6 separate regions of the Homo sapiens genome follow, and all the other regions are reported to be linked to region 5. Evidence: microRNA targets listed by miRTarBase, many of them from high-throughput screens and not tested one by one. Region 5 holds a microRNA gene; each other region holds the end of a gene's coding sequence.
Evidence for each region. The annotated mature microRNA hsa-miR-873-3p reads GGAGACUGAUGAGUUCCCGGGA and lies in region 5 at 1,734-1,755, opposite strand. An mRNA with a match to its seed (bases 2 to 7 or 8) in the 3' UTR can be bound and repressed. Matches are read on the target gene's strand: a 7mer-m8 pairs with bases 2 to 8, a 7mer-A1 pairs with bases 2 to 7 and ends in A, and an 8mer does both.

Region 1: the mRNA of DCTN4 is a reported target of hsa-miR-873-3p. Seed matches in the 3' UTR shown: 7mer-A1 at 2,565-2,571.
Region 2: the mRNA of SESN1 is a reported target of hsa-miR-873-3p. Seed matches in the 3' UTR shown: 7mer-m8 at 3,644-3,650.
Region 3: the mRNA of HES7 is a reported target of hsa-miR-873-3p. The part of its 3' UTR that is shown has no 7-base or 8-base seed match.
Region 4: the mRNA of KLHL38 is a reported target of hsa-miR-873-3p. Seed matches in the 3' UTR shown: 7mer-m8 at 1,348-1,354.
Region 6: the mRNA of MYLK3 is a reported target of hsa-miR-873-3p. Seed matches in the 3' UTR shown: 7mer-A1 at 1,572-1,578 and 7mer-A1 at 61-67.

What each region holds. Positions count from the first base shown.
Region 1 is chr5:150,706,900-150,712,146 of GRCh38, forward strand. It overlaps DCTN4 (dynactin subunit 4), which reads right to left. Exons shown (of 13, transcript NM_016221.4): 13 at 1,541-4,463. The coding sequence ends at 4,250. Among named protein-coding and RNA genes, the nearest start is that of RBM22, 8.5 kb to the left of the region's middle.
Region 2 is chr6:108,983,037-108,988,283 of GRCh38, forward strand. SESN1 (sestrin 1) reads right to left here. Exons shown (of 10, transcript NM_014454.3): 10 at 1,273-4,594. The coding sequence ends at 4,508. It also overlaps a transcript of ARMC2 not described here. Among named protein-coding and RNA genes, the nearest start is that of ARMC2-AS1, 62 kb to the left of the region's middle.
Region 3 is chr17:8,117,564-8,122,769 of GRCh38, forward strand. HES7 (hes family bHLH transcription factor 7) reads right to left here. Exons shown (of 4, transcript NM_001165967.2): 3 at 4,780-4,867; 4 at 3,029-4,474. The coding sequence ends at 4,008. ALOXE3 (arachidonate epidermal lipoxygenase 3) reads right to left here and starts at 951. Exons shown (of 16, transcript NM_021628.3): 1 at 923-951; 2 at 281-740. The coding sequence starts at 427. TRK-TTT3-5 (tRNA-Lys (anticodon TTT) 3-5) reads left to right here and starts at 1,592; the gene lies at 1,592-1,664. It overlaps TRQ-CTG1-5 (tRNA-Gln (anticodon CTG) 1-5), which reads left to right and starts at 2,189; the gene lies at 2,189-2,260. It also overlaps TRL-TAG1-1 and TRR-TCT2-1. RefSeq lists enhancers at 117-1,316, 1,038-1,117, 1,198-1,267, 1,418-1,517 and silencers at 2,038-2,087, 2,218-2,307, 2,678-2,887, 3,828-4,287, 4,508-4,617.
Region 4 is chr8:123,641,137-123,646,383 of GRCh38, reverse strand. It overlaps KLHL38 (kelch like family member 38), which reads left to right. Exons shown (of 4, transcript NM_001081675.3): 4 at 356-1,942. The coding sequence ends at 645. Among named protein-coding and RNA genes, the nearest start is that of KLHL38, 10 kb to the left of the region's middle.
Region 5 is chr9:28,887,156-28,892,402 of GRCh38, forward strand. It overlaps MIR873 (microRNA 873), which reads right to left and starts at 1,800; the gene lies at 1,724-1,800. The region is part of intron 2 of LINGO2 (leucine rich repeat and Ig domain containing 2); the gene reads right to left.
Region 6 is chr16:46,702,846-46,708,092 of GRCh38, forward strand. It overlaps MYLK3 (myosin light chain kinase 3), which reads right to left. Exons shown (of 13, transcript NM_182493.3): 13 at 1-4,918. The coding sequence ends at 4,859. Among named protein-coding and RNA genes, the nearest start is that of ORC6, 16 kb to the left of the region's middle.

The DNA.
Region 1 (5,247 bases), not on the chromosome of region 5:
AAAGCTACGGGTTTTTAAAGGCAGGGAAAGAGAGGTTACAGGCAAAGTCATAAATCAATACATAGAGGCTATACATTGGTTTGACCTAAAAAGGTGGGACATCTCAAAGCTGGGATGGGGGTGGACTCAAAGGTCATAGGTGGTTTCAAAGATTTTTTGATTTATGATTAAGGCGGTGAAGCTGTCTAAACTTGGGATCCACAGAAAAGAATGTTAGCTCTGGCCGGTGGACATGACTTCCTCCAGGCCCCTCAGGAAGCAACTTAGAACAATGAACAGTGGTCAGAGTTCAGTTCTCAGTTTCCCCTTATCTGAGGTTTAAAGCTGGTGAGAGTTCAGGTTTCTGAAAAGTTGGGGACATGTATGTTACCCTTAGTTTCTATAGGGAACAAAACATCTCACTCTGACTTCCTTGGCTATTGTGTTCAGCTACTTCTTGCTTATCAGGTTGCTCATTAACTTCTTTGGGCTAGCTAGGTGCCTAGAATTCCCTTGAAGGAACTCAAGATTTCCCTTTATTTCCATGCATGGAGGGGCCCACAAGCCTCCTAAAAGGGGGTCCCTGCTCTGCCTCAAAACCAGGAGTGTTGTGTTCTGGAAACCAAGCAAAGCCTTTCAAGAAGGGAGAGATAAACTGTCAGATCTACTGAAAAATTGCATAGTTAAGGACTGAGAACTGACCCTGTATTTAAGTGTGGTGATTGCTGGTGACCTTGACAAGAGCAGTTTCGACCAAGTGGTGGCGGTGAGAGTCTAACTGGAATGGGTTCAGGTGAGAATGGAGGAACTGGAAGGTTGAATTAGGGTTTTTTTTTTTTTTTTTCCCTTGAGACGGAGTCTCGCTCTGCTGCCCAGGCTGGAGTGCCGTGGCGTGATCTTGGCTCACTGCAAGCTCCGCCTCCCAGGTTCACGCCATTCTCCTGCCTCAGCCTCGAGAGTAGCTGGGACTACAGGCACCTGCCACCAGGCCCGGCTAATTTTTTTTATTATTTTTAGTAGAGACGGGATTTCACCTTGTTAGCCAGGATGGTCTCGATCTCCTGACCTCGTGATCTGCCCGCCTCAGCCTCCCAAAGTGCTGGGATTACAGGTGTGAGCCACCGCACCTGGCCATTTTTGTTTTTTAAAAAACTTTTACTTAAACAGAGACAAGGTCTTGTTAGGTTTTCCAGTCTTGTCTCAAACTCCTGGCCTCAAATCATCCTCTCACCTCGGCCTCCTAAAGCGCTGGGATTACAGGTGTGAGCGATCATGCCCAGTCAGAGTTAGAGGAGTTTTGCTGTACAGGGAGTGGAGAAATGGAGTGGCAGCTGAAGAGGAGAGTGAGGCCAATTTCTTTTTTAAGATGAGAGAAATCACATGCTAATGGAAAAGGGAAGGAGGGAGCTGCCGATGCTATCTGTGAATAGGTAAGAGGATGAGCTTCAGTGTTAAGAGGTGGGGCTGGGTTCCAACAGGAAGAGTATGAATAATTCATCTAAGTAAGAGGAGGGAAGGAACAGTTATGAAGGTACAGATGAAGGTGATGAGTGGCCACTGGTGGAGTCAGACCACTGTGTATATTGTAAAGGATATCTTTAGAAGCAATGACCCAGGATAAAAACTGGTAGAGGTCTAACAACATTTATATAATGGTTCTGTGAATATGTATATAAGAAGCTCAAAGCAACATCTACTTATATATTATGGTGAACTAACCTGCTAAGAGATTTTAGATTACTTCATTTAAGGAATGGAAGGGAGCATGCCCCACCAACTCTCTTAGCCAACTCTCTTAACTTCACGCTTGTCTTTTGGCTCTGAGCCATGCTACTTAGTATCTACATGAGAGCAAACAAAAGACACGCTCAAGCTTTGTCTGCTTTATTTCACTACATTAAGTTAAGCAATAAGGCAAAACAGTAACCTGTCATTCATAAAGATCAAGGAGTACCTCTCTGTCCCAAAAGGGACCAAAAAGGGTGTTTCTTCACAAATATGCATGACACTTAGCTCATTATGCTGATAAGCACTTCAAACAAAAGAAAAGGTCAGTAGGTGAATCAAGTAACAAATCCAAATTAACTTAGCCTAAGTTTCCAAAGCTGTAGTTTCAAGTGCTAATGGGATCTAACTTTCCTGTGGTGGTGCATACTGACTAGCATTAAAATTTTTGCACCTCATCTAATATAAAAAAGGCAACAAATACAATTCCTAATTCACCAGCTGCAGGTATTGAATCATTTCTACGAACACACAGAATACTAGCTTACACTAAAACCTATCTTGAGGAAACATTAAACCAGTGGCTCTATTATTCTGCAAGTTAGTTTGGCTTCTGAAGAAAAAAGTTTATGATCAAAGTGTTTTGTGTTTCTGTGTATGGGAATGATGAGACCCATACTTCAACATTATTACTTTGGGGAATAAATACCAGCTACCTGCCATAAACGCATGACATGTGTGTAGTCTATGCAAACGTGTAAACATATGAAGCTATTCTCTACTCTATGCCCATTTCCTCCACTGGCAAATATGGAGCAGTGATTTCACAGTAGGCTCTAGCAGGTAGTGAAATAAAAATTTGAGACTCTGTGGGGTCACAAAAAAATGAAACTCTTTCTATAGTCTGCAAATCTGTAATTACCCATCCCCCTGCTCCAACTCCTAAGAGGCTAAATGTTATTACCATAATGTTAGAGATGAGTATTTTCCTTCTTACACTGCATCACATATATTACTCTGTAGGACTGTTTCATAAAATTGGCTTGACCTTTGTACAATTAGTACAATTTAGTGTCTTTTAGAGTACAATTTAGTGTCTTTTAAAAGCTTCCTAAATATTTAAAACATTTTCAAGGGAAGCTTACAAGGACTATGTCCCATCTGTATTCTACATTATAATGTTATCTTTAATTTTTTAAGACTTAAAACAAGACCAAGGTAAACAAAAAATCTGTATTTTCCTCAAGTCTCTTGGCCACTTACTAACAATACTTTTACAGAAAACACGGTGCAGCTGGTGGTCTACTTTATCAAGTTTCATTTTAGAAAACATCATAGAAATTAAGGTTAGCAACCCAACTCCAGGATACCAAGTGAAAACAGCAAGTCTGCTGTTAGGCCAGAACTGTGGGCTACTTGCTGAACTATTTTATGGTTTACAATCAAAATGGTCTTATTTGACTCACCACATGACAAAAGTCTTAAACTTAGTAAGGGGGAAAGTTCTTAATATCCAGTTTTGGATTCAAGAGATTATAATAGTTAATTTCCCCTTCAAATCAATGGAAAGAATGCTAGTTGAGAATATTCTAAAAATCTAGCCTTTAAAATGTTTTCTGCATTCCAGAAATGAACCTGTCCACTCAGGTTTTCTTTGGGTTCTTTTCCAGGTCCCAAACAGAACAACTTAACTGAGTTAAAGAGGCAGAACAGGGAAGGGGTAGGAAGTAAGACAAATAAAGATTGCCCCCCTGTGGCAGCATTAATCCCTGGGTATTGTGGCAATATTGAAAACGAATGGAATCTGCTACCCCCTTGACATGACATGTAATTGTTTGCTTCTCAAATTCTTCTTAAAAGATCCATATTTTACTGGGAAAAAAATTAAGAACAACTAATACGTGTCCTGTATTCACTTAGAAAAAGAGGGCAAATGAGAGTGCCTTAACAACTTCACAGGTTTTTCCAATCATCATGATACTAAAGATAAAGTGACAATTCAGTTTTTCAGTTATATGGAAATCTATGGCAAAATGGCAGCCATTATGGCAATGAAGGGATATGTTTTAGACTGTTAGATGATATTTAACGGAATGCAGAAAGCAGTTGGTACATTGTGACCAATGCTGGATCATTAACAGCAGGTCTACCTTTGGGTTATCATTTAAGTTTCATCTGTGACATTGTGATCCTTAGTGAGATCAGATCAAGAGACAGTACAGAGTTTCTCAGGTGGTAAATACAATGCCATTCCAAGGAACACCCATCCCCTTTCCTAGGATGGAATTATGCTGCTGTTACTCAACGTGCAGGGTTCAGTGAGGGAGACACAGACTTACTGGTGTCAACAGGGGTGAGAGCAAGAGCAACAGCAGCTACCCTGTGTTCCCAATGCCTTGCCTATGCTCCCACTTTCTTAGCAATAGAATTCCGTAGTGCATGGGTACATCGTTATAAACAAGGCCTAATGAAGCAGCAGCTTCCACATTTTAACGCAGGTTTACGGTGATACTGTCCTTTGGGATCTGCCCTCCAGTGGAACCTTTTAAGGAAGAAGTGGGCCCAAGCTAAGTTCCACATGCTGGGTGAGCCAGATGACTTCTGTTCCCTGGTCACTTTCTTCAATGGGGCGAATGGGGGCTGCCAGGTTTTTAAAATCATGCTTCATCTTGAAGCACACGGTCACTTCACCCTCCTCACGCTGTGGTGTAACTTTGATGAAAATACCCACTTTGTTGGCCTTTCTGAAGGCTATAATGCTATGGAAAGAAAAAAAAGCAAGTATTAGGTAGATAAAAAAATCAGCCAAACCACTAAGACTTACAGTAAAAGTCTTTCACCTTATTCTTTCCTTCAGCACACACAGAAAACCTATAAACACTTTGTTCTTAACCTACCAAGTATTTTTTTGTTTTGTTTTGAGACACAGTCTCGCTCTGTCGCCCAGGCTGGAGTGCAATGGCTCCACCTTGGGTCACTGCAACCTCTGTTTCACGGGCTCAAGTAACTCTCCCATCTCAGCCTCCCGAGTAGCTGGGACTACAGGCATGCACCACCACACCTGGCTAGCTTTATATATTAATACGTATATTTTTTGGTGGAGATGGGGTTTCGCCACGTTGCCCAGGCTGGTCTCGAACACCAGGGCTCAGGTGATCTGCTTGCCTTGGCCTCCAAAAGTGCTGGGATTACGGGCATAAGCCAACACGTTGGCCATATATTTTTCTATGAGCTTATACTTTTCTGCTTTTCTAACCAACACAGATGGTACACACTATTCCATAACTTGCTTTTTTTTAACTCTGTTTATCACAAACACCTTTTGACGCTGGTATATACAGATCATCTACAATCTATGTAATGGTTGCACAGTATTCAATTATGTGTTTACCATAATTGGCATATACTGAGGTTGCTGACAACTTTTCTCTATTATAAACAATGGTGCTGCAAACATCCCTTTACATTTACCTCTGTGCAAATGCAATATTTCTATAGAACATAGACTCATACCGTGGAAAGTTATTTATTTATTTATTTTTT
Region 2 (5,247 bases), not on the chromosome of region 5:
TCGATCTCCTGACCTCATGATCTGCCTGCCTCGGCCTCCCAAACTGCTGGGATTACAGGCATGAGCCACCACTCCCAGCCCCATTTTTTAGTTATTTGGTTTTTTGAGTTGTAGGAATTCTTCATATATTCTGGATATTAACCTCTTATCAAATATATGATTTGTAAATATTTTCTCCTATCCCATAGGTTGCCTTTTCACTCTGTTGATTATGTCCTTTGATGCACAGACATTTTTAAGTCTGATGTAATTCCAATGGTCTTTTTTTCTTTTGTTGCCCATAATTTCTGTGTCATATCTAAGAAATCATTGCCAAATCCAATGTTGTGAAACTTTCCCCGTGTTTTCATCTAGTTTTACAGTTGTCAGTCTTACATTTAGGTCTTTGAGTTTTTTAATATATAAGGGTCCAACTTCATTCTTTTGCATGTGCATATCTAGTTTTCCTAGCACCATTTGTTAAAGAGACTGTCCTGTCCTTATTGAGTGGTCTTGGTACCTTTGCTAAAGATGATTTGGCCATATATGTGAGAATTTATTTCTGGACCCTATTCCATTGGCCTGTATGTTTGACTTTGTGCCAGTTCCACATTATTTTGATTACTGTTGCTTTGCAATATGTTTTGAAATCAGGGAGTGTGAGACCTCCAACTTTGTTCTTTTTCAAGATTGTTTTGGCTATTCAGGGTCCATTGAAGATTCTAGATGAATTTTGGCATGGAATTCTCTACTTCCGTGAAAAATGCCATTGGGATTTTGATAGAGATTGCATTGAATCTACAGGTCACTCTGGGTGACCATGAGATGTCTTTCCATTTATTTGTGTCTTTAATTTCTTAGTAATGCTTTACAGCAGGGGTCCCCAACCCATGGGCCATGGACCAGTCCTAGTCTGTGGCCTGTTAGGAACTGGCTGCACAGCAGGAGGTGAGTTGTGGGCAAGCAAGCATTACTGCCTGAGCTCTGCCTCCTGTCTGATCAGCTGCAGCACTGGATTTTCATAGGAGCTTGACCCTATTGTGAACTGTGCATGTGAGGGATGTGGGTTGTGCACTCCTTGTAAGAATCTAATACCTGATGATCTGAGGTGGAACAGTTTTATCCTGAAACCATCCCCCACTGCACCGTCCACCCTGGGTCCATGGAAAAACTGTCTTCCATGAAACCAGTCCCTGGTGCCAAAAAGGTTGGGGACTGCTGCTTTAGTTTTCAATGTGTAAGTCTTTTGTCTTAGTCTGTTCAGGCTACTGTAACAAAATACCTTAGACTGGGTAATTTATAGATAACAGAAATTTATTGCTCACAGTTTTGGAGGCTGGGAAGTCCGATATCAAGGATTTAGTGCCTAGTGAGTGTTTTCTTCCTCACAGATGGCACACTCTAGCTGTGTCCTTTCATGGTAGAAGGGGAGCTCCCCAGACCTCTATTAAAGGGCACTAATCCCATTCATGAGAGCAGAGCCCTCTTGATCTTATCACCTCCCAAAGGCCTACTTTTTTAATATCACCACATTGAGGATTACATTTCAGCATACAACATACATCAACATACAAATGTAGGGGAAGACACAAACATTCAGCCATCACATATCCCCTTGGTTAGGTTTATTCCTAAGTATTTTATTCTTTTTGATCCTATTGTAAATGGAATTGTTAAATTTTTTTGGATCATTCATTGTTAGTGTATAGAAATACAACTGATTTTTGTGTGCTGACTTTGTATCCTACAACTTTGCTGAATTTATGCTTCCTCTTGATCACACCATCCTCTGCTGGGGAAGAGCTAGGGTGAGCAAAATCCACAAACTTTCCTAGCCTTTTGGTGCGGCCTTTTCCTGGCTTTGCATTTGCCTAAATGCTGCAGTTTCCCAATTGGTTTCTAGAGTTCTCACAAAGATATTCTGGCCCATATATTGTTAACTCAGCGTCTCTGGGAGAATGAGGACGTGGAGTTCCCAAGTCCATCATCTTGCTGACATTACTCCCATCTACCAGTGTTAGCAAAAAACTAGTATGATGATTCATATATGATATTCACATATACAAATATGCTAGTAACATTTCTGATTCATGTATGATATTCACATATATGAATATGCTAATAAAATTTCAGAGTATATTGATAAAAAGTGCTTATCCAACAAGTTTTACTTATCTACTTATCTCCTGGTGGTCTGTATCAAAATCAATCTCATTCTTAGAGATGATAAAGTTTGGCCTAATAAAAAATTTTCCCAAATACGGCCAAAACAACTCAAGATTTTAACTCTTGAATCCTGGGACCCTCAACCAGAAATCTTCTCATGATTATTTTAGAAGAAAATTTTCCTCTGGTTGGGGAAGGTTTTGATATCCCCAGTGTAATGTACCTTCCCTAATTATTTTGGAAACTACTGGTTTCAAAGATTATATAGTAACATTAGAAATCCTGTGTGTTTAGTTTTGAGAAAACACTCCAACAGGAAGCACCTGCTAAATGGAAGGCATTGAAACATTAACTTTGTATCACATGCACTTTTATTACTTTAGGTATAAACATATTTTTTAACTCATTAAAATTTTGATTTCAATTTCTAAGTGATTATAAGTTCCAGTGGACTAAATGCATTCTAGTTGATCTTGTTTTGTGATCACTCTACTGCTGATTAGAATCTCTACTAGAAATTTTGTATTTTCAAGAGGAGGAACAAAGAGCAGAAATGGGATAAGTAAAATTTTAACTATCTTCTTGGGTTCAATTGTATTGCTCTGGTGAGAGAACTCAGCAGCAGGCAGAAGAGGACAAAGGCATGATGCATATTCAATGAGTAATGCACTTATAAGTAAGTTTCTTTAAATATAAAACATATTGAAGATAATAATACTCTATTCCTAGCTAAGGTTATAGTCTTGTCTTCTCATGAGAGTAAATATCCTTGAGGACAGGTACCACCTCTGTTCAAAATTGATCCTTCCCAACCCCTACTTCCACACTACCCCATACATTTGTAGGCAGGCACTAGATTGAGCTCAATAAATGTTTTGAGGAGTAACTAACAGAGTTATCATCACAACAGCTTCAGTTAAACTTAGAGCTATTTCTACTTGTCTGATGAGTGTCATTTTTTGTTCTGTAGTCTCTCCCTAATGAATCCTTCTTTTTAGTAATTCTTAAAATTCTATTGGAACTCTAAAACAGTTGAAAAGAGAGCAGGCATAGGGCCATACCAGTCATTTCCAAGATAAAAATGGTCTCAGATAAGATTCTAAAGAAAGTCCACTCCTCTTTGTATGTTTCAAAATGGCTTCAAGTGTTGTTTTGCCATTTAAGTGTGAATGTACTTGGCTTATGAAAGTAGATAGAAACTCAAAATTATTACTAATAGTGAAGTCATGATTTTTTAAGAGATTGAGACAGCAAATAAAATTGGAGAAAAATTCTTCTTTATTTAAAAATACCAGTAATACTGACAGACTTCAAAAGCAATTCACGCTTCCAGAATACAAAGTACTTAATACATATTTTCAAACCTGTTTGCATTTCAAACAAAGTTAGCGTTTTTGTAAATCAAATTTGATAACCCGACTAAAAATATTTTCCAGCTTTATTATTTAAGGAGCTGCACAGCCTTTAAAGTGGGGACCAGGAGGCAGGCAGAGGCAGAGAGACTGAATGCACCCAGGACTGCGCAGCAGTCTACAGCAACATGTCCCACAACTTTGGTGCTGGAAACACAAGTAATGCACAAGACAGCTGCCCTCCAGTGTCAGGATCCTGTGAAACAGCATATCAAAAGATCGCCAGCTTCTTATAATTTACACACTTTCATTTAGGATTGCTTTTTGAAGAAAATCTTTAAGAATGCCATTTTAATTTAATATCCAGAACCCTGAATTTAAAAAACTAATGAAAGAAATTAACTGTTACCATCAAAATGGTTGTTGCTGAGCTGTGTGAGTAGGAATTCTATGCTTTTTTAGATGCAAGAAAATTAACACATAATGCAAGTTTAATTTGAAATCACACAAGTTATGTATGTAGGCTCAGATAGTAGCAATGTTCACTTTTATTACTAATAGCTTAACTGAAACAGCCATCTATTCATTCCTCCAGCAGGAATAGCAGCACCAAGATCTTCTAAAATTCTTTACATATAAAGCTTAAGTCATTATCCAAGTCCCATTCTTTGCATGCTCCAATTCTTGTTATCTTATTTAACATAAAAGCAACAGGATTTGGAGAGTTACTATTTGCTGTATTAAAACAGTTACACAGCATCTTGTACTGTCAAAAAGCAAAATACTGTGAATGGCAGCCTGTCTTCACAGCTCTAAACTTGAAGCTGCCAAACAGTCACTGCTTGTGCCAGCAGTGGTTTTCCACAGAAAAATAGCAGAAACTAAAGGAATCATGGCACAATGGATTTCTGAATTATTTTGTCTACCATTGGTCCTGGGGCTTAGTACCTTCCCCCTTGTAGACTATATCTGCTGATCATTCCAGAATCATCTTTAATGAAGGAAAGGCATCAGGTCATATAGCGGGTAATGGCTCTCAGAGCATAAAGGAGTTCTGCTTGCATCCTAGCTTCTATAAGAAGCAGATTAACATGAACCTGAATATAAAATACAACATCATATAAGGAAGGGTTACAAGCATTCACAATCAGTTTTTCAGTGAATCTAATGAACACATAAAATAAGTACACTTCCTACACTTCCTATGTAGTACAGCATAACTTAGCCTTGGGTTTGTTGAACAGATTATAAATTTCTCAAAACAGCAGCTATCTTTTTTTTTTTTTTTTGATGCACACTTTCACTCTTTCCCAGGCTCGGGTGCAGTGGCACGATCTTGGCTCACTACAACCTCCACCTCCTGGGTTCAAGCGATTCTCATGCCTCAGCTTCCCATGTAGCTGGGAATACAGGTGCATGCCACTATGTCCAACTAATTTTTTGGTATTTTTAGTATCACCATGTTGGACAGTCTGGTCTTGAACTCCTGATCTTAAGTGATCAGCCTGCCTTGGCCTCCCCAAGTGCTGGGATTACAGGTGTGAGCCACCATACCTGGCCTAATATTCTTTTTGGATAGATTGAGCTTTCATTTATATTTTATCATGTTTCTTGGAGGTTTGTTACATGTCAGAAAATCTAGACACTGTTTTATCAGAATAGCAACTTCCCCTGCCAAATCATTATTCAGTAATTTCTATAAAGATGTTTCAAAGAGAACAGACACTTCTACCTATACACAGCTTTTATA
Region 3 (5,206 bases), not on the chromosome of region 5:
AGGGGAAGCGACTTGCCCAAAGCCCACGGTCAATTATGGGAGGAGTTTAGGAGCCAGGGGAAGTCCCTCTACTCCCTGTCCAACGCTCCTTCCTCTCCACAGTCCTGCCTGGATGGAGTTCATCATCTCCAGGAAAGACAGGGACCTCAATAGGGAAGGTGAGGAGGTCAGGGCCGGTATCCTGAGTTCAGCAGGATCTCAAGAGTCCAGGAGGAATACTCCTCCCGCCTGCGGCCCCTGCCCCTCTGAGGTCGCGCTTCCCTGTCTCCTTTGTACTCACCGATCCAGGGGCGAAGTCCCTGCCCATTCGATCTAGCCGCTGCTTGGGGCTTTCACCACACGTGCCCACCAGTGTGACAGAGATGTTGTCCAGTGTGCCGGCCCTCAGGTAGGGACCAGTGGTCACACACAGGCGGTACACTGCCATGATGGGAAGGAGGAAGGGATGCCCCGGCAACGCTGGCCGCAGCAGCAGCCGGCCTGGAGGAGAAGAGCGGCACGCCGGACAGGGCTGGGTTTCTGGGCGGAGGGCTAGGGGCTGCGGGGCTGGGTAGGGCTGAGGATGGGCCCAGCTCTCTCTGGGATGTTCCTGGGCTTTCTCTCTCCGAAGCTCCCTGCTGGCGGCTCGGGCTTCCTCTCTCCGCCCACAGTCTTGCACTCTAATACTTGTTTGCTTGCCTCTGACACAGCCGGTCCCTCTGGCTGGCTCACCCAGATGGATATCAGGAGCCTGGGTTCCACTGCGGAGGGAGGGATCAGATGCTGAGATGGAGAAAAGGAGGTAACGCCTGTATAATTGGGACACTGCCCTCCGCCTGGTCAGCGGCCCGGACTGATGCCCTGGAGTGCTTGTCCGCCCACTCCCCAATGTCCCCCAAGATCTGTTCCTCCCCATTCCCAGGCAGAGATGAGCACAGGGCACCTGCATTCCTACGTGTGAATCATCCGTGTGAATCACTAAACAGTGGAGAGTTGCACTTGGTCATAAATCACACGTGACTGCAGCCACACGCAGGTGAGTCGCACACGCATTCCAGCACATGTCAAATGGTCAGGAACAGCTCCCTGTCACCCCATACACCGATCCCCCCACGCATGGCCCTCTTTGTCCCCAGCCTTTGGCACGCCCGACCTCATTCTCTGCTCTGGAGTAGGGCAGGTCAGGAAAGCGAAATACAGCGCCGGCAAACAGGGTCTGAATGCCCCGCGTGGCATTCTTTCCGCTCCAGGACCGCCCTGGGCCTGCAGGATCCTGGGCGGGAGCCCAGGTGTCCGGGATCTGGGCCACTAGGGACTGGGGAGGAACCTCTCAGAGAAGCCCATAGCCCGCAGCGGCCCCGCGCGGCCGGTTCCGGCGCCGCACTGTTCCAGCCTCTACTATGGTACAGTCCCTGCGTCGCAGCCTCGGCGGGGGCTCTAAGAACGGGAGGCAGAAAAAGCTCAATCAGCAGCAGGCGAGCTTCACCCGCTGCTTCCAAATCTGTGCCAAAATATTCTATGCTGCACAGATAAAATCCTCTGTCGGTTCTACAAGCCTGGCTTTTCCTATAGAGAACCCTCTTATAAGCAAAAAGTAAAGCTCTCGTGAAGAGCCCGGATAGCTCAGTCGGTAGAGCATCAGACTTTTAATCTGAGGGTCCAGGGTTCAAGTCCCTGTTCGGGCGGCATGTCTTTGCTTTTGGGTACCGCACTTCGCATAAAATGGTAACAAAAATAGTTACTAGTTTTTAAAGCTAGGTGATACAGAAACTTGATTTCCACAAAATACAGCAAACGACGGTGGAGGGTAATAAACATACTTTAAAACAGTACAAACGCGAGCCGTATTATCGAATTTACATTTTCTGGTAGCCACATTACAAAGAATAAAAAGCAAGCGAAATTAATTTCACGGATCTATTTTACTTACCCTAATATACCAAAATCTTATTTTAACATATAATCAACATTCTAAAAATATTAATGAAATTTTAAGTCTTTTTGTTTGTACAAAGCCTTCCTTCAAAAGAAGATGTGTATTTAGAAGCTGGCAATACATCTGAATTCATATATTTCAAGTGCTCGATAACGGTGTCTACCATATCCAACAGCAGACTTTGTTTTGTTTTCGTTTTAAGTGACGGGTGTGGAAGACACGCAAAATAGAATGTCCAGTAATGTACACAATCTTGAAAGACACCACGAGGGAGGTTCCATGGTGTAATGGTTAGCACTCTGGACTCTGAATCCAGCGATCCGAGTTCAAATCTCGGTGGAACCTTGAAGCTTTTCTTTTAATATCAGCATGTTGAATATTGTTAATTGATTTTCACAGAGGGGATACTCCTATGACCCAAGATAATACGACAAAAAAAAAAAGTAAACTAGGACACTACCAATTATTTGTGCTTTTCCTACCGGATAATTGAGTCCTATAACACAGTGTTAAGAGAACGTACAATAAATTATTTAAATATGTTGGAAGTTGAGCTAACATTTGAAAACATGTTAAAATAGAGATGTTATGAAGAAACGAAATAATAGAGATGTTATGAAGAAACGAAATATTGCTTCAGCAGTTACCATCAGGTCTTAGCTTCTGGGATGGATGCAGGCCTATGATCTCTCTGGAAGACCAAACACGGAAGATGATGGTGAAACCATTACCAGGGGAATTCGTAAAATTACTTTCTGCATGTAAATAGGTGTAACCTCACAGAACTGTTAACAGAACTGTAGCAGGTGCGTAATCCACCAGAAAAACTCCAGCCTGGCAGCGGTGGGATTCGAACCCACGCCTCCGAAGAGACTGGAGCCTAAATCCAGCGCCTTAGACCGCTCGGCCACGCTACCTGCACGAAAACTTACTGTCCCCGTTGTCCTCCTAAGAGACTAGAAGTAAGGAATGGGGCAAATCTTAAGAGTGCCAAATTGATTCGTCTCCTTTTCCACATCTTTTAGACTGGAAATGAAGAACCATCGAGACTGTGGACCGCATAGCAGCAGATGGCAGAACAGATAAACGAGAAGAGACAAAAACACACAGAAATTTACAACAAAACTAGTTTATTTGGGTGGGACTATATCTGGGAGTGGGGAGCGCCTGAGCCGGAAACACCCCCCAAGCGGGCAGCCGGAGCTCTGCACTCGCTCGCTCAGCCATTTTCGGTTGCTCTCCCTCCCTGTTTTTTCGACCCATGTGCGCCCTCTCTCTCACCTGGCTAACATGCTTTGCGCCCGCTACCTCTACCTGGCTTGGCCTCTGAGATCCAAACCGCGCCCTCCTGGCATGTCCCGCCCAAGTCCCTTAGCCCCGCTCCCCAACCCTGCCCCATTCCCACTCTAGTACCCGTAAGCTACAAGACGCCGCCGTTCGTCGGGTGGCTCTGTGGCGCAATGGATAGCGCATTGGACTTCTAGTGACGAATAGAGCAATTCAAAGGTTGTGGGTTCGAATCCCACCAGAGTCGATTTTATTTCAATTTTTCCTTTTTATCCGTTTTTTTCTTAAAGGCCCCCATCCCTTCTCCCCCTACCCTATCTCTCTCTTTCCACCTGGTTTCAATTTCGATCTCAGTTCCCGCTCTGCTCTCTTCTTTACTTACCTGTCTGCCCCGGGGCTTGGGCCATGGAGAGCAGGACTGAGGGTGGGAGACAGAAGGGAAGGGAAAGTGGGCGTGGACGTCGAGATAAAGGCAGGCCCCTGGCTCGGGGACACACGGGGATTTAATAACCACTTTATTCCATGCACTAGGGACTCGGGAAGGGACTGGGACTGGGCTGAGGGGCAGAGAGAGTACAATCCTAGACGCAAGGGAGAAGTTGGGGCAGGGAAAAGGGACAGGAACCAGGGAAATATATATTTATATAGATACTCTAATATAGACCACATCTCACCCGCGCGCTGAGCCCGCGCGCCCCACTGCCCTCCCCAACACCTGCTCGCCCGGACGCCCGGGTCCCTCTGCTGCCCTCGGGCTGGAGTCTCTACCCCACCCCTAGACCCCGCCCCCACCACCCCCCAAGGCTCAGGGCCAAGGTCTCCAGAAAGCGGGCGGCGGGGGCAGCGGGGCCTTGGGCGCCCCGTCTTGTCTGTGAGGCGGCGGTGGCGGCGGCAGCAGTCCGGTGAGGGGCGCCGGCGCGCCAGAATCCCCGGCGCGCGGGGAGCAGAGGGATGGGGACCATGCGCAGCGCGGGCTAGGGTGGCCCTGGTGCACTGGGGGGCGCTGGTGCAGCGCAGGGCCAAGGGCCGGTGCGGCGGGGTCCAGGGATGGGCGCGGCGCTGGAGGCCTCGGATCTACCGGCTTGGGCCGGGGCGGTTTGGGGCGCAGATAGCCGTGCAGCGCGGAGAAGAGCTGGGCGCGGGCGGCCGGGCTGGCGTCGTGCGCGAAGGCCGCCAAGCGAAGCAGGCACTCGCGGAAACCGGACAAGTAGCAGCTGGCGAGCGCCTCGGCGTCCTGGACTGGGGACCGGGGAACCCCTGGAGCCGCGGCGGCTGGTGCGGCCGGCGGGAGCACAGGTGGGCAGGGCAGGGGCCCGGCAGGGGTGAGGGAAGGGGCGGGGCGCAGAGATACCAAGGCCGGACAGGCGCACAGAGACAGGAAGCCAGATGGACGGAAAGAGGGAGAAAATGAGGGAGACACAGAGACAGACACGCGCGGGTGTTATTAACCTCGCCTCGGAGCAGAACCGGCCACTCCCCAAGCCCACCATCCACCGCAGGGCCCGCCCACTCTGCCCCGGCCGGAGCCTCCTGGCGTCCCCCCTCCCTCCCTCCGCTGCCCCACCCCCGCGCTGTACCCGGGGGCTCCACCCGGCTTCGCTCCCTCAAGTAGCCCACGGCGAACTCCAATATCTCCGCTTTCTCCAGCTTCGGGTTCCGGAGGTTCTACAGACGGGAGGGGAGGGCGCAGAGACAGAAAGGGGTGGGGAGAAAGGGGGAAAGTGGCAGGGGGAAGAAGGGAGGGACGGATGCGGGAGCTGGTGGTGCCCCCGATCGCATTTGCGCACTGCCCACAGAACGCGCGACCAAATGCGGAGTGGAGATGACCAAGGAAAGTCCTGGCCCACCCTGAGACGAAACTGTCCAATCCTAGGGGTTGGAACCAATGCCCAACGCGTGAGGAGGAGATTTGAAACCGCAACCCAGGGAATGAAATTAACCACCCGACATAACAGAGGCTGGCTCATCAGAGGCTGGCTGTGGGGGAGGGGGAACCGGACACTT
Region 4 (5,247 bases), not on the chromosome of region 5:
GGGAACCCACTTCTGAGTTTCCAAAGGATTGTCATAGTTCTTGAGTGGGCATTTGAGAGAGGAAGAGGCCAATGAGGCTGAGAAAGTTACAGGAATCAGGAGGCCGCTCCCAATCTAAGAATGGCTTATATGCTGCCTTAACTTGGGGTGAAGGTCAGAGTCAGGCAGATTTGCGTGCCAGCCCCCACTCTGCCACAAAGCAGGCCTTGGCAGGTTAGCTCAACATCCCACGTGCTAGTTCAGAGCCCCAGCCTCAGCCTTACGCAGTGGCAGGAGTCAGACGCGTCCCAGGACTGCTGACCTCCAGTCCCAGATGAGCAACACTGAGCTTGCCCATGTGTCATTTGGTTTTCAGGTTACACAAGGAGGATTCTTGCTTATGACCCTCAATCCAACAAATTTGTCAAATGTGCGGACATGAAAGACCGGAGGATGCACCATGGGGCCACAGTGATGGGAAACAAACTCTACGTGACGGGCGGGCGGCGGCTGACCACGGACTGCAACATTGAGGACTCCGCCTCCTTCGATTGCTACGACCCCGAGACGGACACCTGGACATCCCAGGGACAGCTGCCGCACAAGCTCTTTGACCATGCCTGCCTCACTCTCCAGTGCATACCCCGCACGTCTGGCCTCCCATGAGGTCGACAAGAAACCTTCTGCCCTAGTCAAAATGCCTTCTGTCGCCAGGGACACAAACCCAGCTCCAAAGGGCTTAACCCTTAAAGGCTGCAGGGAGAGCTCACAAGACTGAGGTACCAGAGTCGGGAGGCCTGGAACTAGGCATTGCATTGCCAGAACTCTCTCTCTCCTTCTCTGCCTCTCTCCTTATCTCTCTCCCCCACCTCCATCTGTCTCTGTCTTTCCCCCTTCTTTCTTTCTCTCCCCTATCTCTGTCTGTCTCTCTCTCTCTCTCTCTCTCTCTCTCTCTTTTTCTTTTTTTTGAGATGGAGTTTCACTCTGTAGCCCAGGCTGGAGTGCAGTGGTGCTATCTCAGCTCACTGAAACCCCCACCTCCCAGGTTCAAGCGATTCTCACGCCTCAGCCTCCTGAGTAGCTGGGATTATAGGCATGTGCCACCAAGTCCAGCTAATTTTTGCGTTTTAGTAAAGACAGGGTTTCACTATGTTGGCCAGGCTGGTCACGAACTCCTGGTCTCAAGTGATCCACCGGCCTCAGCCTCCCAAATGCTGAGATTACAGGCGTGAGCCACCACGCCTGGCCTGTCTCCTTTCTGTCTCAGTTTCTGTCTCTCTTCTCTCTCTCTGTCTGTCTCCCCCTCTCTGCTTCTCTCTCTTCTCTGTCTCTCTGCCTCTCTCTGCCCCTCTCTCTCTCTCTCTCTCTCAGTCTCCCCTCTGTCTTCCTCTCTCTCATCCCTAGGTTTTCCTCTCTCTCTAGCAATCTTCTTCATTTACCCACACAGTGTGTGGACAATGACAAATGATAAACCCAGACTCATTTTCCAGCTTTATATCTTCAGGAGAGAACTTTGCCATTATCCATATATTAAACCTAAAAAACAATGCTTATGGGCCTCTTTTGAATTCCATGTCTACCTCTTGAGCCAATCACTGTTGCCAGGACTGGCTAGTCCTGGACCACATCCCCACAGACAGAGGTGGGGTTACCTGTTGTCACTGACAGCCCATCCAAACTGCATATAATGGGTTAGAAGCATTTCCCCAAAGAGAGAAATCCAGACAAAAACCACATCTGCCCAGGACACCACTGAAATCTGGAACAAGAGGGCTGAGAGAACCCAGAGGATTCCTGGAACTGCTTGGTCCAGGTGGCAGCGTGAGAAATTGGCCCTGACCTTGTTTTTCTGCATTCTATGGATGTAGTACATTGAAATTCCAGAGATATATGCACAATTCAGTATCTAATGTTTGTAAAATTATCCTGCATTGCCAGAATAAAGTTTGTTTCTGGTGCCAAATGATGTTTTTCTGCAGCCTCTGGGGAGCTATAAACCTGCATAATTAATCAGGATGTTCATTTTGGTCAGTGTTATGAGGATTGCTCTTCTGGGGAAAGTCAACAAATTCCTTCAGTGCTTACAGCAGTCATTGCCCTCAGATGCCAGGGCTGACTATCTCTATAGCTCCCGTTATCTCAAGGTGCCTCCCACACTGGCTCAGTCCCAAACACAGGAATAAGCTGAAGTGGAGAACAGCAGTTCTCAGCGCTGCCTGCACAACACAGTCATCTGGGAAGATGTTTGAAAATGGGGCCAGCTCCATTGGAGAAAAATGAATAGGGATGCTTTGAGGCTGGGGGCAGAACACTGTATTTTTTGAAAAGCTTCCCAGATTTTTGAAATGTACAGTCAGGGTCGAGAACCACCGCTCTGGTCAGCTGTGAGCACGGAAGACCTGCATGGCTGGTTTCATTCCCCTCCTGTCATGGTCAGCCCGTCTGAGCCTAACAATGTAAGCTAAGTCCTCTCCCCACCAACGGAAGCATCTGCCATCAGTCTTGCTGCCCTGAGCCTGGCACCAGAGTTCACTCCAGCTGTAGCCTTCCTCCCCATCTGGCTCTCCAGGTTCATGTTCTAGACTTTTCCTTCTTTCTAAGTTGTCTTTTTTGTACTTCAGATTCTCCTCCTGGGGTCTGAAGCTCTGCTCTGCTCCCCAGATCTCTTGGCTGTGGTTCAGAGACCCTGCTTGGATTGCCAGCCCTGCTCCTCAGCCTGGACACTGTCCCCTTAGCTTCTGGCTGGCATCTTGTTCCAACCTAGTCTCTTTAAACCCCCTCTATTCAGGCTCTCAGTCCCACCTCTATTAATTCACAGGACAGTTGATTGTTTAAAAGGGCATAGAACACTTCCCCTCTCTTTTGCTCCCTCTCATGTGAAATGCTGGCTCTCTAATATGGTTTGGCTGTGTCCCTACCCAAATCTCATCTTGAATTGTAGCTCCCATAATATGAGAGGACCCTGGTGGGAGATAATTGAATCATGGGGGTGGTTTCCCCCATACTGTTCTCATGATAGTGAATACGTCTCACGAGAGCTGATGGTTTTATAAAGGGTTTCCCTTTTCATTTGGCTCTCATTCTCTCTTGTCTGCCACCATGTAAGACGTGGCTTTCACCTTCCACCCTGATTGTGAGGCCTCCCCAGCCACATGGAACTGTGAGTCCACTAAACGTTTTTTTCTTTATAAATTACCCAGTCTTAGGTATGTCTTTATCAGCAGCATGAAAACGGACTAATACACTCTCCTTCCCCCTCCACCATGAATGGAAGTAGCCCGAAGCCCTCACCAAAAGCAGATGCTGGTGCCATGTTTCTTGGACAGCCTGTATAACCATGAACCAAATAAACCTGTTTTCTTTATTAATTCCCCAGCCTCAGGTATTCCTTCATAGCAGCCGAAAATGGACTAACACATCCCCTCTTTCTTTTTCACACTTGCTGTGCCCTCCCCTTGAAAACATTTGCCCCACACATCATACCCACATGGTTCACTCCCTCAACGCCCCCAGGTCTCTGCTCAAAGATGCCTTCCTTCCCTGACCACCCACCCTTCACATAACCCATCAACAGGTCCTGTCTGCAACACCCCTGGGAAATAGATCACAAACACCTCCAGCTTCTCCATCTTCACTGGTGCTTCCCCAACTCAAGCCATCCTCATCTGATCAGCCTCCAAAATGTGCCCCCTGCTTCCACTGCTACCCCATGAGCCTTCCTTGAGCAACAGTCAGAGTGATCTTTTTTTTTTTTTTTTTTTGAGATGGAGTCTTGCTCTGTGGCCCAAGCTGGACTGCAGTGGTGCAGTCTCGGCTCATTGCAAGCTCCGCCTCCTGGGTTCATGCCATTCTCCTGCCTCAGCCTCCCAAGTAGCTGGTACTACAGGCGCCTGCCACCACGCCCGGCTAATTTTTTGTATTTTTAGTAGAGACGAGGTTTCACCGTGTTAGCCAGGATGGTCTCGATCTCCTGACCTCGTGATCCGCCCGCCTCGGCCTCCCAAAGTGCTGGGATTACAGGCGTGAGCCACCACGCCCCGCCAGAGTGATCTTTTTAAAACACAGACCTGATCATGTTACGCCCGTGCTTAAAATGATTCCATGGCTTCTCAGAGACCTTTGCATAAAGCCCCCAATCCTTTATGTAGCTTCTAGTTCATTCCCTAATCCAGCACCCACCTATCTCTCTGGCCTCATCTTTTGCCACCCTCACTCCTTGAAGTTGTCTCAGGCCCAGCCATCCTTCTTTACTTTACACCCTCCTCTCTTTCCTCAGGGCCTTGGCATGTGCAGTTGCCACTACCTGATACACACCTCTCTTACCTCTTCACCCTACATAATTTCGACTTACACCTTGCACACCAGATTAAGAGTCACAGCATCAGGGGTGTCTTCCATGCTTCCCCCACTCCAGTTTGGGTCAGCTTTCCTATTAAATACCCCTATCATTCCCCCTTTTGTTTTTCTTGTTGTTGTTGGGTTTTTTTTTGTTTTTGTTTCTTGTTTTTTGAGATGGGGTTTCACTCTTGTTGCTCAGGTTGGAGTGCAATGGTGCAATCTCGGCTCACTGCAACCTCCACCTCCTGGGTTCAAGCAATTCTCCTGCCTTAGCCTCCCAAGTAGCTGAGATTGCAAGCATGCGCCACCATGCCCGACTAATTTTGTATTTTTAGTAGAGACAGGGTTTCACCATGTTGGTCAGGCTGGTCTCAAACTCTTGATCTCAGGTGATCCACCTGCCTCGGCCTCCCAAAGTGCTTGGATTACAGGCATGAGCCATCGCGCCCGGCCCCCTATTCTTCTCCTTTGAGACTCTTATCCTATTCGTAATTATTTGATCTCTGTTTTCCCCTCTAGACTTCTTATTCTGTCCTGTTCATCTCCGCATTCCCAGGGCTGCCCTCAGTGTCTGCCACATACATTATAGATCTTCCATAAACACATGATAAATGAATTAATGAATTAGTAAGTGAATTAATGAATTAGTCAATGAATTAATGAATTAGTAAATGAATTAATGAATTAGTAAATGAATGAAGAGGCTGAATCTACATCGTCTCTGAGATCTCCTTCACAAATTCAGAGGTAAACATGTTGAGGCACTAGTTCCCGTGCCCCAGATCCTCTGCTCGGAGTCATTCTGTCCTTCCCTCTTTCTTTCCCCTGACCCACCCTGAACTGAGCCTGGCAAGTCTCGGTGGGGTACAAAATCACATGGCCCACCTGGGTCAAGCCTGGTGGGCAAAGGGCTTTATCCAGGGCACCCTA
Region 5 (5,247 bases):
CTAACCCCAGACTCTGGCAGAACAGTTGAAAATAGATGCTCAATAGAGATGTCTGCTGAGTTGATGCTGACATATAAGTTCCATGTTATTGATCTACATGTGGGAAAAAAATTGAAAGGATTTTTTTTTCTCTAGTTATTGAAAGTCAAGGGTCAGATGAGCTCCTTGAATGAGGCCTATTGTTCTAACTTGCCCCTGGTCTTAAAAAAACTGTTGGCATTAGGATGAACTATACATTCCAGAAAAGTGATTCTCAACTCTCTCCTGATTGTACCTGATGACATGTTGCAGAAGCCAGTAATTTGTTACTAATATTAAAGAGTAATGTTAGTGGATGATTTGCTTTTATTAAAAAAAAAGAAGGGCATGTTCAGGGTGACATATATGCCACCTTATTGCATTCTAGTAAGATAAGCTTTTCAGAGGAGACATCACAACAAGCTACTGGAAATAAAATACAGCCAACACATTGTTTTATCTCAGCCACATCCAGCAGTGTGATCACACAGACACAAGGATCATGGGTTTAGATGTGGGGCAAAAAGACAAACAAAAAGGCTGAGAACTGTAATCCTAGATTGTGAAAGAGAAACAGAAAGGTCTACTGACCAGTGATTGACGATACTTCTGTCTGAAAACATGCTTTCAATCGATTTAATATTTTTCCATATTTATGCCAGGATAATTAAAATCAATTGAAGAAATCCTACAGAAATAAGCTCCAACTGGATTTAATTTGCAAAAAATTTAAAGGCTGCACATTGTTTTAGAAAAAAGACAGGTCAAAATGAAGGTAAGATTTGTATTACCAGCTTACATGTAAGAACTTCATTGAATGTTTTGAAGATAACATTTTGAGGAATGTAGAAAAACACTGAGAGGAACTTTATCACTAATTATTATAGAATATTTAACACAAATATAACCTTTAGATATGATTCATTTTTCTAAGTGAATTTGAAAGTATTTAGGTATGACTATGAGTAGAGTCTCTGCTACTCACTAATGTAGGATACACATCATCAACTTCATACATTTACTATATTCCTCCTTCAGTAATTGAATTTGTCACTCTTGTTAAAAGAAGACCATAAACAGATTATAAAGGATCAACCTTATGTGGTTTCATGAAAGGCTGCTTTATGAGATTTAACAACAGATTCATGCTATCAATGCTGATGCTAAATGTGGTCCATTGAACAATCCTGAAATATAAAAAGACTAATTACATAAGTTGATGTTACACATGAACATGAACAGAGAAAATATTTTCTCAGAAAAAAATTAGATAACAATCTCAACATTTATATACTTAAACTCCTGATTAGATACAACCAAGAAAAAAAGTTTAAGGGAATACATATGATTTTTAATTTTTTCCTTTCCTGCAAGGTCTATAAATTATCTTTCACATAAGCACTGGCACCATTCATTTCATTGAATAATTTATGTCTTGTAGAATGTCTGCTGAGTTTACAAAGATAAGATCAGGACTATTAGAGATGCTTCCCTTGGTGGGATTCAACACCTCAAGTAAACCTACTGACATCCATGTTGAGTGGACAAGTTAACCCTTGCCTAACTGAATTATTTTGCATTTTCAACATTACTTCCTTGTTTAGAACTTAAACTTATACTCAGAACTTGGAGGAACTGACAACAGTGGAAGGTACCAGCCATAAAATGTTGTCCATTGCAAAGCAGTAGAAATGAGTAGGAAGATTTGTGGGTGTTCCCGGGAACTCATCAGTCTCCTGTTCATTTTCAATAGGAGACTCACAAGTTCCTGCAAATGCACACAAACTTATTCTAAGCAGGAACCATTTGCAGATAAGCAGCTGTTCATATTTCCTCCATTTCAAGTGAATACAGTAATCTGTTCCCCTGGAGTATCTTCAGCAGCTTGCCTGGTGCTTGTGATTCTTTTCAAACAGTTTTGTGGGCATCCCAGACACTGGTCACCTTCATTTATGTATTCAATAAATATTGATTGAGCATCCCTTAAGCAGGTCACTGTTCTTGTTTTAAAGATAGAGTGATAAATAATTTCTTGCCTTTAGGGCAATTCTATCAAACATTAGTCCAGTTCACTTTCAATAATGCCTGAGTCAAAGTATCAGTCTCCAATGCCAAATGAGAGGCAGTGGTATTTAAATTTGTACTTCCTGGTGCAATGGGAAGAATCTAGCAAAGGGAACTACGAGATCAGAATTCTAGCCCTACTGCAGCTAAGACATAGCAGTATTTCCATGTCACACCATTTAACATGTTTTTTGCTTCAGTTTTTTTTTTAATTTTAAAAATTATTATTTGGGCTATTTTACTTTTCATTCTGGATATAAATGTGTGATGATGATATAATAACTGGAAACAAAGAATGGAAGTGTTTATACATAAATATAATGTTATTGAAGTTGTCTTTTTCTATTAAAAAACCTTTGTTTCAGCAATTACTGTAAATTTTAAATGTATTATTAATAACTGGAATCTTTTCTACCAGCCAACACATAAATTATTTTTCTCATATAAAAACAAATGGTTAATTTGCCCATTTAATGGCTCCTAACATTGAAACTTATTTTTATCAGCTTTAATGTCTCCATTAGATCTCAGACTCTAGCTCTAACGTTCTAAGAAGACAGGCTCAGTTCTTGACCAGGAAGGTGGTAATCATCAAGGTAAATATTTTTCCAAGACCAGGTGTTAGTCTTTGCAGTTTTTCTGAAATTTTAAGCTCTAGAAAATTTTGCCTATGTTAGTTTGTTCAAATGAAAAAAATAAATATTCCACTATCTCTTCTCCCCATAAAAAGCATGTGTATAGGCAATTATGCCTGTTCACACACAGGGTCTCTGTCCATAAAGGTTCCCAGCTGGTAAAATTTCATGCACTCATGCTTGGTACAGAATAGCATATAGATCCATTTATTTTACTACCATATGCCCTTGTAAGAGGCAGTATGTAAATACTTTATTGAAGAGGTTTAATTTTTAAGTCCTATCTAGGAATTGGCAGAAATTAACTACAGGTTTTCTTGGTTTTTTGTTTTGTTTTGTTTTGTTTTGTTTTGTTTTTGTGGGGCAAAAGAAGGGGTTTTGATCTCAGTAGACTTTCCTGTCCCTGGAGCTTGGATTTCTGTTTCTGTCTCACTGTTAAAGGACTGAGACCATATCTCCATATAATTAGGTTGTGCAGGTAAGCAGTTACTGTCTTTTCCTAAATGGGTACACACTTGTGTACCAGGGGCAGCACTGCCATGGAGACCTGATCAAAGGGGCCTGCCTGGTATTTAATGAGGTGGAAGAAGAATGCCACAATGAATACAGCCTCAACTACTCTGAATTATGAGGTTTATGTGGTTGAGTGTAGAAGTTTCTCCAAATGGACCCAGAGTCAGTTACTTGTATGGCAGAGGAGTTTGGAGGACAATGGGACATTCTCTCTTTAATCTCTACTAGGGCTGGGGAAGGAAGTAGACCCCACTGAATAACCTCCTCATTATGTGGCTATATTAAAATTGTTGAATATCTATTTATGTAAATCATATGCTATAAAGGTTATTTGCTGTTAAAGTCTCCAATTAAAATTCCAATTGACAGTCAAGAATCCTTGAAATAGCCTAATCAAATAAGAGTAGATCACCACTTTATCCAAGGAATAAGCATCCTCTAGGCAGAGGCACCATCCTGTTTTTCTTTTTTCCACACCTAGAAAATCTTCAGCAGCTAACAAAATCAACTGACTAGTATATGAAATGTATTTGTAAATAAATAAATAATCAGCAACTCAGAGAACATTTATTAAAAGTTTTCTAAAGGGTAGAGTAGGTGGCTAAATAAATGTGATACAATCATTTCCTTTATAGTGTTTGCATTAACATTTTACCTAATAATAAAACGTAGGTTATTTGTGGCAAATGCATATCACAGATGCAGATATACAAAGATGACAAGGAGAAACACTAAATAGCAATAAATGGTGCAAACCAAGAAACAGAGGAGGAAATGTTGAAGCAATTGTGTAGCAGTACATAAAAGTTTAGAGTTCTACAAGCAGAGACCTGTATGTAACTATCACACATAGAATAAGCAATGTATTCTATGTGTGCCTCACATTATATTTAATCTCTCTGGGACTTAGTTTTCTCATTTCAAAATGTGGATACTAGTAGTACCTATCTCATAGTATTTTATCATTCTTATCAGCATTATTGTCATTATTGAGGGTAAGGAATGGAACAGAGAGAACAAATTGAATGTTATAGCCCTGTTACTGAATTTACATATTAATGCTAAAATCTTGAAGCAGGAAAGGAATTTCTGGAGAAAAAAAAAAGAGTATTAGTCATATTAACACCTAACCCATTATAATCCTGAAAAATCTACTAATAACATTGTCATTATAATGAAGTCTGGTACCTTTGGGGTGAGTATAGATGCTATTTCTAGGGAACTGTTTCCACATTTCTCAAAAAGTTATTTAAGATGATGAAAACTATACCCATTCCTTGTACTTCTATTAAGAGAAGCCATTCCTTAACATCTTTATAGCTCTTTGACAACCTTTCTGCTACTTATTATTATCAATGCTGAAATAAATTATTTAGAGAATACTCATGCAATTTATGAGGTCACAATAAAGAAAATGGTCAAAGTCACAGAAATACAAATATTTCTTAAATACAGAGCAACATATTTTAGAATGAGAATTTAGACTACGTGAATGCTGTAAGGCACTTAAAAGTTTATATGAGTTTTCTATTTTAAGATACTTTTTTTATAAACACTCTAACATTATTCATGTTACTACCTCTTTGGTTAATAAGCATTTTCTATCCTTATCCCAGTGTCTGATCTTTAGAGAAACAAAATAAACTGTTGGAAATAACAAACTGGGTCTTTCTTTATAAATTTTTTTACCTCATCAAATCACTATGTTCATAAAGTATACTACATGGTTGAAATAGGTGGAGATAAATCTGAATTTTAAAATTTTCACTCCATGCTAGACTGCAGCGATGCACCTATCCAGGTTTTTGATTAGAATTATGAAAAACAAGCAGTCATAATGTACTGAGCTCTAAGAGGTCAAGTTCTCAAGTTTGAGATTTGCTTAGGCTTATTTCTCCATAGTGATTGCCACTATGCCCATACACTTTACAGAAAATGTGTGAAGAGATCATGATAAAATATGAATTTATGTATTGATTCATGCTTTCAAAGATATTTGTTTGACACTAAGTTCATT
Region 6 (5,247 bases), not on the chromosome of region 5:
GGGAGGTGGATGTTGCAGTAAGCCAAGATTGCGCCACTGCACTCCAGCCTGGCAACAGAGTGAGACTCCATCTTGGAAAGAAAAAAAAAAAAAGGAATACATGCTCATTGTAAAAAAAAAAAAAAAAAAGATTCAAAAGGTTCAGAAAGATAAATGAAAAGTGGAATTCCCCCTCTCCCAATCACCCACTTTTCACACTCCACTGTTAAGTTTCTTGCATATCCTACGGTTTTTTAATGCACATATAAGCATATGTCTCTTCACAAATGGGATGATACCATATATACATTCTATAATTTAAGAAAAAATGGCTTTCAGTATATCTAGATCTATCTATAACAGCTGTGAGGTATTCCACTACATGGATGTGGCAAAATTCATTTAACTAAAACCAAACTAATAGGCATGTGTTGGTTGTTTTTACTGGGCCATTAGCAACAGTGCTATAGTAAACATCATTTTGAATAAATCTCTATACAATTGTTCAAGTACGGAGGGATAAATTTCTAGAAATAAAATTTCTGGATGAAAGAAAGCATGGGAATGACTTTTATTTGGATACATATCCATCAAAAGTGGGAGAATGCCATTTTCCCCACAGCCTCACCAATTCTTCACCAATCTGACAGGTGGAAAAAGTGTGCCCCAACTACCTTTTAGAGTTTCTCTGCCCAGCAGTTTCCAGTGACTGTACATGCAAATGGAAAAGTCCCATTAGAAATAGTTGACCCAACACAGTTGCAATCAAGTATTTGAGCTAAGTACACACCAGCAAATTACTAAAAATATCCAGAAAAACTCAAGCTTCATAAAACCTCAAATTTCAAAAAAAGGATGCTAAAATCCACATAGGTCACTTGTGTTGGCCTGGCCTAAACAGACCCCTCAAAGGAACTTTGGAGGGAAATTGTTTCTCTAGGTAAGGAATAACAGCATAAAGGGAAAAAAATTAAAATTGTTAGATACAGGATTCTCTCTAGATCTGCCCTGTCCAATATAGATGCCACTAACCACGTGTGGCTATTAAACACTTAAAATGTGGCTAGTGCAACTGCAGAACTGAATTTCTAATTTTATTTAATTTTAATACATGTAAAAGTGGATACTTCAGTTATTGGAAAACAGTGAGTTATGTTTCAAACAACTTGAGTATGTAAATACATTTTCCACAGTAAGTTTTAAGAAATCTAAATACAGATTAAGTACGTCTGATGAAAACCTAGCATCTGAATTGACAGGTTTTTTTTTGTTTTGTTTGTTTGTTTGTTTTTTGTCAGGGGTGGGGACAAAGTTTTGCTCTGCCACCCAGGCTGGAGTGCAGTGGTGTGATCTCAGCTCACTGCAACCCCTGCCTCCTGTTTAAGTGATTCTTGTGCCTTAGCCTCCCAAGTAGCTGGGATTACAGGTATGCGCCACCACGCCCAGCTAATTTTTATATTTTTAGAGATGGGGTTTTACCATGTTGGCCAGCAATCTGCCCACCTTGGCCTCCCAAAGTGCTGGGATTACAGATGTGAGCCACCATGCCTAGCCTTGACATGTGTTTTTAAGTGTAAAATATACCAGATTTTTGAGACTTAGTATGAGAAAAAGAATATAAAATATCTCTTTTTTTTTGAGACGGAGTTTTGCTCTTGTTGCCCAGGCTGGAGTTCAATGGTGTGATCTTGGCTCACTGCAACCTCCACCCCCTGGGTTCAAGTGATTCTCTGGCCTCAGCCTCCCTAGTAGCTGGTAAAGTATCTCAATTTTATGTTGATTACATATTGAAATATTTTTGATACACTAAGTTATATAAATTATTAAAATTGGCTTTCAATGGGTTTTGTTAGAGAAGCTACTAGAAATGTTTTAATTATGTGTATAGCCTGTACTATATTTTTGTTGGGCAGTGCTGCTCTAGATATGGTAATTAACTGTCTTTTTCTGGGGAGATGTTTCATAGCATTCTCCAGAATCTTAAGTCGAAAACAGGGTATGAACCACAATAGAACTATAAAATATACTCTCTAGCTCCTTCTGGAGGCTGCCCTCAAAAAACCTTTTAAAGAAAGATAACTGACATTTAAAAAATAAGACATTTTACCAAATCACTATCACTGTCTCATCAAAGGACAACTTTCAGCAGCTGTGTCTTCTGATGTTCATTCTTCAGCTGACCAACTTGGAGCAGGCCTAGACTTGCTGGTATTGAAACTGTTAGTTCCCAACAAGGGTTAGCCTTCCAGAGGAAACTTAACAACTTGAGAACTGCAGCAGCAGGATAACCTCTCCACCTGCCTACCTCTCTGTCAAAAAGCAAGAGCCTCTGTTACAGGACAAAAATCCTGAAAGGTAGTGAAACTGTTGCATGTCTAATTAAAATCTAAAATTCACAACATTGACTAAAGCTGCTCACCTGAGGCCAAGCACAGTGGCTCATGCCTATATTCCCAGCTCTTTGGGAGGCCAAGACAGGTGGATCATCTGAGGTCAGGAGTTCGAGACCAGCCTGGCCAACATGGCAAAACCCCATCTCTACCAAAAATACAAAAATTAGCTGGGCGTGGCAGCACACGCCTGTAATCCCAGCTACCTGGGAGGCTGAGGCACAAGATCACTTGAACCCGGGAGGCAGAGGTTGCAGTGAGCCAAGAACACACCAGTGCACTCCAGCCTGGGTGACAGAGGAAGACTCTCTCAAAAAAAATAAAAAACTAAAGCTGCTCACCTGAGGAAAAAAATGGGAATAGCACAAAAATCATGTAGAAGTAAGGAAATTTTAAAGATTGTATATTTTTTCATAATAAAGTACTCCTTTAACCATTTTACAAGTTGGTAAAGTATCTAAATATACATGTATACAAGTTCGTAAATGTGTTAGTTGAAGCTGGGTGTGGTGGCTCACACCTATAATCCCAGCACTTTGGGAGGCTGGGGCAGGTGGATCGCTTGAGCTCAAGACCAGGTTGGGCAACATGGCAAAACCCTATCTCCACTAAAAATACAAAAATTAGCTGGGTGTAGTAGCGGGCACCTATGGTCCCAGGTACTCATGATCGCCTGAGCCCAGGAGGCGGAGGCTACAGTGAGCCAAGATCACACCACTGCACTGCAGCCTGGGCAACAGAGTGAGACCCTGTCTCAAAAAAAAAAAAAAGTGTTAGTTGCTTGCCATGTTGAGAACAGTATGATTTCAGTGAAGGGATGACAGGGCTACTCTAATGCATATAGAAAAGTGTTTAAATGTACAGTGGACCCTTGAACAATGTGAGGGTTAGGAGTGCCTACCCCCTTGCAGTAGAAAATCTGAGTATAACTTTTGTCTCCCCAAAAACTTAACTACTAATAGCCTAATGTTGACTGGAAGCCCTATCAATAATATAAACAGTCAGTTAATACCCATACACACATATGTGTTCGTGTGTGTGTGTGTTTGTGTGTGTGTATATATACATATACTGTATTCTTTTTTTTTTTTTTTTTTGAGACGGAGTCTTGCTCTGTTGCCTAGGCTGGAGTGCAGTGGTGCAATCTTGGCTCACTGCAAACTCCACCTCCCAGGTTCAAGCAGTTCTCCTGCCTCAGCCTCCAGAGTAGCTGACATTACAGGCATCCGCCACCACGCCCCACTAATTTTTGTATTTTTAGTAGAGATGGGGTTTCACTGTGTTGGCCAGGCTGGTCTTGAACTCCTGACCTCAAGTGATCTGCCTGCCTCAGCCTCCCAAAGTGCTGGGATTATGGGCATGAGCCACCACACCCAGCTTATATACTGTATTCTTACAATAAAGTAAGCTAGAGAAAAGTTACTAAAATCATAAGGAGGAAAACATATGTTTACTATTCATTAAGTGAAAGTGGATCATCATAAAGGTGTTCATCTTCATCATCTTCCTGTTGAGTAGGCTGCAGAGTGGGATGAAGAGGAGAGCATGGTGTTGCTGTCTCAGGGGTGACAAAGGTGAAAGAAAATCCACATTTAAGTTGACTGCAATTCAAACCCTGTTCAAGGGTCAACTGTACATGTATATAGAAAGTGTATGTGTAGAGTGACAACATTGAGAGTGCTACAGCCTGAGGCAGCAGAAGAGCAGCTTTCCTTTATGTCTCAGGATGTATCATTTCTGTGTTTCTCAGAAAGCGGAACCTCATTACATTCTTATCTCTTTCATAAATTGCCTATCAGCTTCCAGACTTACAAGACCAGAAATTTATAACTAAGACAGAGGGGTTAAGACAGGCAGAATTAGGAGAGAGGTGGAGGTGTGTGGAGATTTAAAAAGCACAGTCAAAATGATCACTTCTTTGATTTGGCTATGAGAGTTGACATATTTTGACATTTCAAGTGATGCTGATTCTCAAAAGGGAGCATAAGTTAAAGCAAGTTTGAAGATCACTGTCCTAAATCCACATGGCTTAACACAAGAATGGGGTAGTACAATAAAATGTCAGCTCACACCTGAGCAAATCAAAATTCTAGGAATTCTTTGTACTGGAGGAGATAACACTGAATAACATGGCCCCTGCAAAGTAGTCTACTGAGTTCCTTAATCAGTGTGAGTTTAGAATTTAAATTCGACAGATGCAAAGTACCTACCTAAAGCATCCCTACACTTACCACCAAAAGTAGGTATATTTGAAAGGTACTCAGAGCATTTCACACGTAGTGATCTTACAAGGCAGAAAAAAACGTTCTTAGGAAGCTTCTTTACAGCCACTTTTCATCCACAAGGAAGGCAGCAGCCATAACCATTTTTACAAAATAAGTGGAATCAATAATACCAAAAAGCCAAATTATTTAAATGTTTGAGTCATCTCTTCACTTCACCACTGGCCTCAGTAATTTCTGGACCCATTGGAGCAGCAGAGTTGAAGATTAGGGAGAAGTTGGAAATTTCCTTAACCTGTTGGCAGCAGTCACCACATAGAAATGTTTCTTGAGGCAAGGAGAGAATAAAAGAAAAGAAAAAGCATGTATTTTAGACCAGTTGCCTTATGAAGAAACAATAAAAGGATTTAAGTGAGTCCAGCCACTGGGGTTGGTTTAAATCTGATACCTAAAGGGAAACAAGTTTCTAAAATAATTATAGAATAGTCACATGACTTTCAGGGGCATGTTGGGAGTAAATATGAAGTGGGAAGATACATCATCCTGCCCTCTTTTTTTTCTTTTTTTGGGGAGGGGGTAGGGGGGTCAGGATGGGGTCTGGCTCTGTTGTCCAGGCTGGAGTGCAGTGGCGTGATCTTGGCTCACTGCAACCTCTA